2 linked regions of the Homo sapiens genome follow. The protein of the gene in region 1 purifies or fractionates together with the protein of each later gene. This does not show direct contact. Each region holds a gene or a part of one and is shown in the gene's direction. Other genes may lie near its edges.

What was found.
Region 2: the proteins of MC2R (region 1) and MGRN1 purify together in Homo sapiens (affinity purification with western blotting, with the first as the bait; one study listed by BioGRID). This does not show direct contact.

Annotation. Positions count from the first base shown.
Region 1 is NC_000018.10:13,912,475-13,917,028, reverse strand, and holds the start of MC2R (adrenocorticotropic hormone receptor), read left to right. Parts: upstream 1-1,492; 5' UTR 1,493-1,541; intron 1,542-4,554. UniProt on the Homo sapiens protein: Hormone receptor primarily expressed in adrenal cortex that plays a key role in regulating adrenocortical function. Upon corticotropin (ACTH) binding, facilitates the release of adrenal glucocorticoids, including cortisol and corticosterone.
Region 2 is NC_000016.10:4,683,612-4,687,417, forward strand, and holds part of MGRN1 (E3 ubiquitin-protein ligase MGRN1), read left to right. Parts: intron 1-231; coding exon 232-321; intron 322-2,647; coding exon of another isoform or gene 2,648-2,688; exon of another isoform or gene 2,689-3,806. UniProt on the Homo sapiens protein: E3 ubiquitin-protein ligase. Mediates monoubiquitination at multiple sites of TSG101 in the presence of UBE2D1, but not of UBE2G1, nor UBE2H. Plays a role in the regulation of endosome-to-lysosome trafficking.

The DNA of each region.
Region 1 (4,554 bases):
TACTCTGCTCCTTCCAAGAGATTTTTGCCCCCTTTTCTCTAAAAATTGGAGAGAGATGAGCCCCCAAAATGGAAGAACTAAAATAGCAATAGCTACTCTCTTTGCAGGGCTTAGCCAAACCCCTAGGCAACCTTCCCCCTGCTGGAAGTCTCTCCCTGTCCCTCCCAATCAGAGTGGCCCAGGTCCCACCCAGGGGACTGGCCGAGGCTCGCCTCCTCCAGACAGTGTTCCCATTGTCTGCAGCCTGCCTGATGTCCCACTCCCCAGGGCTGGCCACCGGTTTTCCCAATCAGCTAATCAGATCCACAGATCTCTGACAAAGGGCCTCTGCTTCTGCAAGTACAAGGGCTAAGGACGAGTTGTCTCTACTTTTCCAGATAATACAGTAGCTTTCTGGAGGCAATGCCTTGCTTTTCTCTGTTATCTCAACTACATGACTGAAGAGGGAAAGAGGCCTGTGGAACGCCGGGTTTCAGCTGCAGGGCATGTTGCGGAGGCACACACCTACTCAGAAACAGTCGAAGTCTGGGATGATCCTGGGTCCATGAGTTCCTGGGGACAACACGCTTTGCCTCAGTGACAGGCCAGGAAAAGCCACTTTATAAAATTGTGTTTACCCGCCTGGCAAATTCAACTCAGGTCTCTCTCTTTGGTCTTTTCCAGACCACCCACGTGTGAACACTTTTTAGCTTGGGGCGGAAGCTCACATTTCAGAAACAGCCACTGGTTTGGCCCCAGCCCCAAAAACCCAGGACCATCTGGAAACTTGGCCCAATTCCACACTTCAACATTCCTGTTGCTGTGACTGACACCAACAGTAGCCCTTCCCTGCAGGCCCCGGCAGGCAGAAAACACACAGCATTGCACCCTAAAATGGAAGAATTTTGCTTTGAATGATGGCTCTTATCTATGGCGGTTTCTGTGAAGTTTTTGGACGGAGAAGCATTGGCAGAACACAGGGTTTTTTTCTTGTCTGGACCCATGCGTCATATGTGCACTTGAGCACACAGTTCCCTCACTCTCATTGTTTAGTCTTGTGAAATAGGGATAATGGGGCTATTCCCTTCTTCTTAATGAAACTAATGAGCCAAATATTTGCAAGATATATCAAGAAGTTTGCTAGAAGTTTTAAAACAAATTCTTCCAAAACCATTTTCTCAAAAACCTGATTTATTTAATTCCTTAGTTCTTTTTGGAAATAAATGCAACTCTAAAGTGGCATTTAAAAAGAGCAAGATGACAATTCCATAATCTGCTAGAAACATTGTCATAAACATTGGAAGTAACCTTGACTAGCTGAGCTCATGGAAATTATGTCTTCATCTGCCTGTGTCTTTCCATTTCTCTAACTTCACATTACCAGAAATGCACAGTTCATGTGGGATGACATTTATTCAAGGTAATGATAACAATCTAGCTGTATCTCCGGTGATGCATGTGTTCCGGCCCTTCCCGGCCCAAGGTCCACTTGCTTGCTTTTCTCTCCGAGCTCATTCCTTCTCATTCATTTTGCCCAGAAAGTTCCTGCTTCAGAGCTGAAGGTAAGTACATTTTCCACTAATTCCTCAGCTTGCTAAGTGCTTTTGGACCATGAATAGAGCAGCTAGGAACAAATCTGAGAAGAGGTACTATTCAGAATTCCTCCAAATAGCTCATCTTTTTAATTATGGGCTTTCATCCTTCCTAAGGGAGTTTATTATTTTTCTAATTAAACTACTACAATGAAGGCTATTACCTTTTTGTCTAGCTAAAACAATCTTCCCTATTAATGAATTTATTGGCTTCTCTAGTACTCTTCAAATTGTCATTGAGCTCTATTCAAGGACTACAGCCAGTTTTTTCCTAATAGAATTAGGGGTGAAACAAATCATGCTTCTATTATCACTTCTGGAGTTAGCCCCTTCACCTGATCAGCTTGTCTAGGTGTAAGAGTGCGGGGGTTTTAGCGCCACAAAGACGTGGGCATGCGGCAGCTTCCTGAACCTCAGGCATTGGTGTCTAAGCAACTCCACCATCCACACGTGTGACGTTACAGTTCTGGGAGATGCACGCACACTTTCTGTGCCTTTCTCAACCACTAGCTCAGTCAGCCTCCACCTTCCTAGGCAGCAACACGGGGTGCAGGATAAACAATAACTAAAAGCATACTGATTATCACATACTCCTGCAAAGTGTTTGCACCCAGAAAGCATGCAGTCACTGCCATCATGAGGGGCTCACACCTTCCTTTGGCTGGCTCTGTCGGGGGGCACATGTTACCTAGAAAAGAGGCCCAGGCATTCGATTAAACAGCTCTTCTTCATATTTCAGTTTGTCTAAGCTGCCTTCAGATAACTGTCCCCATTCTTCACTTACACACACACACTCATACACACACATATACACACATACACGTGCACACTTGTAAACATACATACATACATGCATGCAAAAAGTCCAAAAGGGATAGGAATGGGAAAGGGGTACAAAGGGGTCCAGAGAGTACAGCCTTGAGCAGATCAGAAGGAGGAGTGCTCCTCACATGCCCTCCCCACCCCATCCCCGGAGTGGGAGTGAAGCGGTGGTCACAGGCTCTGCTCACACATTCATGCCTAGATCAAGCTGTACCGAACCCTTATGTGCTGGGCCTTGTTGCAAGCCTAAGTCAGAGTGGAGCCTCCTGGAGCCCCGGCGCTGAGGACAGCGCACACTGAGACAACACTTCACACTAGCTCCCAGACAGGACACACACCCACAAAGAGCTGTGGGAGCAGGGAGACGGGAGCCCTCACCCTGCCTTTGGGACACCGCTTAGGCCGCGGCAGGGGTGGAGGAGGGCATGAACCAGGGTAATGGGGTAGATAAGCTCCAAAGCCATCCTGACTTCTCAGTGGATCCTGAATCTCTGGCAGAGGAGGTTTTTGCTCAGCAGCAAATTGCCCTCTCACTGCCTCAGAGCAACTTAAGACATCTTAAAAAAAAAAAAAAATCCTATTCTTTACCTTGTTAATGATCCCAGGTATGTTTCCTATGGAATCCTTAGTGTCTAATACATTTTAATGAGAGCTTTCTTGTCTGTGTAAGCCACATTCCTTGCCTTCATTAGGCAAATATAATTGCTGTGGGCCAGGTTGTCTGCAGGGCTCAGCCTCAGACATGGTCAGGGCAGGTCTTATCCTAAGGAACTCAGATCCATCTGCAGGGTTTTCATGTGAATAATGCCGTTGTAGAAATAAGAACAAACAGCTACAGGTGCATAGACGGGCAGCAATCCTGGGCTCCCTTGGGATGCGGGGGCAGTGGAAGAGAGTCTGTACTTGGGCAAGGACACAGTGCTGAGTGTGAGAAGTGAGGAAGGACGTGTCCAGGCCCAGGGAGAGAGAACGTGTGAACAGACAGGCAAGCGCTGGTGCAGACCCACCCAGTGGGCCTTAAAGTGTGGTGGAGTCCTAAAGTCTTAACTTCTCTGTTCTCTGACTATGAGCCGCCAGGGTACAAAATTTGGAAGATGGTTTTAAAGTAAGTTCTCAACTCAAAATATGCGTGTGCCAAGCGCTGTGCTAGCAGCATGGGTAACGCACAGAGCCTGACTTGGTGGGAGAACAACATGTGCAAACTACAGAGACTAATCAACCTAGTAGGTGTCCCAGCATCAAAACCTGGGGGCAGCAAGCGTTTGTGTGAGCAGCACAGCCGTGGCAGGGAAAGGTCCGAGTGGGTCACACTGGCAGGAAGGCACCGTGGAGGAAGCCTGCCATGAGCAGTGAAGCTCAGAGGACGGGAGATGTGAGCGGGTGGAAGGTGGTGGTCCAGGTGAGGCTGTGCAGGGAGCTGAGCATCACACTGATTTCCAACCAGAACACTCCAGCCTGGGCTTCATGCCTCCCTAGCTGTGAGCTCCTGCAAAAGCTTCCATTCTCGGGACTTTCCTTCGCTCGTCCTAAGATGTGATCACATTGTCATTCATGCCTAATTTCCAGTCTTGTGTATATTAAAAAAGAAATTATACTGTAAGCAGCAGTTCTCTGTGAAGTGTCGGAAAAGCTGTAAACCTGCCCAGCGGCCTGCAAGATGATCACACCGAGAGATGCTTCTGCCTGTGCCCGGCATGGGGAAAAAGAATAAAGCCACCCCCAAAATAAGGCTCCCTTGAAGGCCTCTCATAATTGAGCCTATGCGGAATTCAAAACAAGATGTGCGCTGGATTCAGATGAGCCATTGCCTACCATAGCGAGCTCTGCTGGCTGCAGCCAGTCTTCACAGTGATAAGCGTAACTTATAACTCTGTAAGATCAACATCAGTAAGTTCAAGGAAAACTGACTTCAGCTGGAGACAGTGACTGGGCCCTAGCAAAGCAGTTGGGATGGTCCGGGAGCAGAAAACAACGTAGAAATTCATCTGTCCTTGAATTTTTCCTATTTCAACAGAGTATTGATTAATTGATTAATAATAATCTACAAGTTTTATTATGGTGCTATGTTGTTATTTTGTTTTATTTAGCACCAAAACAGCCTCAGAGTCCTGAGCCCCTCAGTTCCCAGCTCCTCCCACAGCTCTTGGCCCAACCTGACCCG
Region 2 (3,806 bases), on another chromosome or scaffold:
AAAAAAAGCCCCATGCTGGGGGATGGGAAGGAGGGAAATAGAAGGGAAACACCCAGCTTTGGGGTCCCTGGAGAGCAGGTGGGGTCACGGTGGAGTCCTGCTGGAGCACAAGCCTGGGGTCCCCACAGTGGCTACAGAGCCCTTGGGTAAGAGAGACGGCCTCCTGCCCAGAGGGACCTGCCGGGACCTGGCCCCTGCCTGTAGGTCCCTAACCTCACCCTCTGCCTGCAGGGACCCGAGCAGCTTCCATTGAGAATGTCCTGCAGGACAGCAGCCCCGAGCACTGTGGCCGAGGCCCACCTGCTGACATCTACCTGCCAGGTAAGGGGCTGGGGGTCTGGGGGTGAGGGGCTGGGTGCCTGTCTTAGTCCCCAGGGAGGGGGCCCTGCTCTGATGGTCGGTGCATAGCAGCAGAGGCTGTCCATTGGAGCCTGGTTCTCTCCCTGGCTCTCAGCCATGCCCCTGCTATTGACCGTGAAGCAGGATGCGGGCCAGGGCCATGGCCACAAAGCAGCCTCAGGCAGGGCCTGGCTCTTGGGAGCGGAACCTGCACCAAAGCCCCTTCCCTCCCTGGGGCCACATTGGCCACAGGAGGTGAGAGACGCGAGAGAGGCTGCCTGTGAGAGGATGGGGTCCTTTTCCCTCTGCCTGCTGCTCACGCCAGGAGGGCAGATCCGGCCCCACTGGGATCACCACATGTTCCCCCACTCCTGGTCCTATCGTGGGCCCACAGGCCCCATGCTGGGTGCCACGTGCGCTCCTGGCAGTGCCTGAGAGCTGCAGACAGAGCAGGAGCAGGTACCACACGCTGTGCTGGGTAGCGGGGGCCCTGGGCCACAGAGCGCAGGGGCAGTGTCTTCTGGGTCACCCTGCCCCGGGCCTGACAGAGGCCACCTGATGCAGCAGCACATCCCAGGCCAGGCACAGAGGACGGCGGGGGCGCCAGGCGCCAGCGGGGAACAGCAAGGCAGCAAGGCTGGGACAGAGGGTTGCTCTTCTCACCTTTCCCGGAGGCTCGGGCCCCAGACCCCATCAGCCAAGCACCTTCGTGCTCTGCTCTGCTGGGATAAGATCCTCAGTTTCGAATCCTAAGCTCTAAAGACCGGGAGGGAATGGGGGCTCTCAGACTAGTGTCTCAGCACCTGCCACGAGGCTGTCTGCGGCTCTGGAACTGCGATAAACAGCCACGGTGCTTTCAGACATGACCCCAGAGCCACTGCTTAGGGAGTGTGGCTCTTCCCTCGCGGCTGCCAGGCTTCACCCGCTTCCTGGCCCCAGGGCCCACCATTGCTCAATCCTCCTGAGTCACCTGGTGACCTGGGCCTGACATTGGGTGGTTGTGACGTGCTTTAGTTGGAAAGGGGCTCTTGTGCCCCCGGACTCTGGCTGAGCAGTGGCCTGTGCTCATGGGCTGGGCGTGACAGGTCGCAGGTGCAGGAGCAGGCACTGCCTCTGGTGCCCTGATGACCACAGCGGCCTGCCCCGAACAACTCACAGCAGAAGGTGTGTTTAGGACCAGCTTACCTTAAAGTGACACAGAATTCGAGTAAGGTCTTTCAGAGGATCTCAAATATTTCATTCTGATTAAAAACTTGGGGGGTGATCGGGGAAGAGGCCAGAAGGACCTCAGCTTCTGGGAGCCACGAACATGATATCTGATCCTGCAGGGTGGCCCTGTGGGGGAGCATCTCAGAGGCTGCGCCTCCCCTCTGTGGCCAGGCCTGGGAAGGATTGGGACAGCTACAGAGGAGGCCCACACAGAGGAGGCCAGGACTCCGAGTCTCATGCCCCACCCACAGGGGAGGGTCTCGGGCCTTCTTCAGGCCCACAGACGGGGGCAGGCAGTCGTCATCTGTGGAGGCGGTAGAGGAGAGGCCGAGTCTACATCGGGGCAGCCTGAGGTGAACTCCTGGGCCCTGGGCCCCGCTCTTGGAGTTGGCTGCTGCTGAATGCCAGCAGGTCAGCCTGCACGGCCTCAGTTCTGAGCCACGGAGAGCACATGTGCCTTTGGGGGCTGTTTGGCGCCATCTCCGTGGCTGTCAGCCTTGTCAGCACAGGTTTCTGTGTGTTTTTAAATCCATGTGGTGGCCCCTCTGTTCCACTGACTTTTTCACATCACAGAGCCCTTGACTGTCTATCCGTGTCTGTGCGTAAGGCATGAACACACGCCAGAGCCTTTGGTTTCTCATAGGGGTGCAGCCGCTGCCTGGCGGGGTGGGCGGCATCACTGAACCCTGCTGTCCCTGTAGATGGGAGGGCCCATGAGATGGTGAACACTGGGGGCCCTGGTGTCTTGGACTTGGCCCTGAGCTCGGTCCTGTCTAGCCTCAGCCCCCCACCCAGGGCCTTCACTCCTGAAACCAGAGGTGGACTGCGCCCGTTAGGTCCTTCATGCGCCCTTCCCTAGGCTGCGGCAGCGGGAGGTATGGGAGGGAGGGGCAGGGCCAGTGCGCTCCTCCGCGTTGAATTCTGGCTGCGCTCTGCCTCCCAGCTGTGGTTCTCCTTGTGGTTCTCTGTGGTTGCAGCAGAGTGTTTGTTTCTAGACGGCCTCGACCGTGTCCCCAAGCTGGTGCCCTTGCTGTGGCTGTGCTGGCTGCTGCGCGCTTGCTAACCGAGCTTCCGTCTGTCTCTCCCCCTCTCCGCGCAGCCCTGGGGCCCGACTCCTGCTCTGTTGGTATAGACGAGTAAGCCGGTACGTGACCTCCCAGACGCGCTTCGGGGGCTCTGACGCGCGTCCTTGGAGAGAGGAGCCCTCCCCTGCTCTCTGGCGGGGGTTCCTTCTGGTTTTTGGGTCTTCGTCCGCATCCGCATCTTCCCAGGGGCCCTGGATTCCGAATCCAGAGCTCTCCAGTGGCTGCTGCACCTTCCCCCAGAAAGTGGCCTCCTGGGGGGTCCTGACTTTCGGGGCCAGAGGTCTCTCCATCTGGACTAGGCGGCCGGTCAGGCTCTTCTTCCAGCCTTGAGGGGCCCTGGAACAGTCCCAGCCCAGGCAGGGAGACAGACACAGCCCAGGTGCGCCAGAGCCACTGTCCACTGCGGGAGGCAGGAGCTTGAGGGATGAGGGCAGCACCGTGGAGGGAACCCCAGGGAGACATGGGGTGAGCGTCCCAAGGGGAGAGGCCTGGGCCTGGCCTTGTTCCGGATGGTCCCACCATGAGTTCGCATCGGTCCTGCAGCAGACACGTTAGGACGCTCAGCAGGTCCACTCCCGTGTTCCGGTCGTGGCTTTAACAATTCATGGGGAAAGAATGCGCCCCGATTGGGAGAGCCCCTGGATCACGTCTTCCCAAGCTCAGTCCCTGTCTCTTGGAGGGAGTCCGTCCTCGAGGGGCCCTCTGGTGCCCAGGGGAGAGTATCTTGCGTCCTGTCCTGAGGGCGTCCGCTCACACAGCCACCTGCTCCCCCGCTCCCTCCTTCCCTTGTCAGCATGGCCACCGTGGGCCTGGCATCACCATGGGCCTGGCACACAGTCCCTCGTGGGCTGCCTTTGTGCCATGAGCCCACTGCTGCCGACTCACCTGTCCCTCCCAGTACTGGAACCTTCTGGAACACCAGCACTAAAAGATAGGAGGCCCTGTGAGGTTGGCATCCCCCATCCCCCCCAAGAGGCGCCCTCTACCAGGGTGGCCCAGGTGAGTGTTTTACAGAAGGCGGCTCTGTCCAGGCAGTGGTTCGCACCTATAAGCCCGGTACTTTGGGAGACCGAGGGGATAGATCACTTGAGCCCAGGAATTCAAGATCAGTGTAGAAAACATAGACCCCCTCTCTATGAAAAATAAAAAATTGGCTTGGGCGTGGTAGCTTGT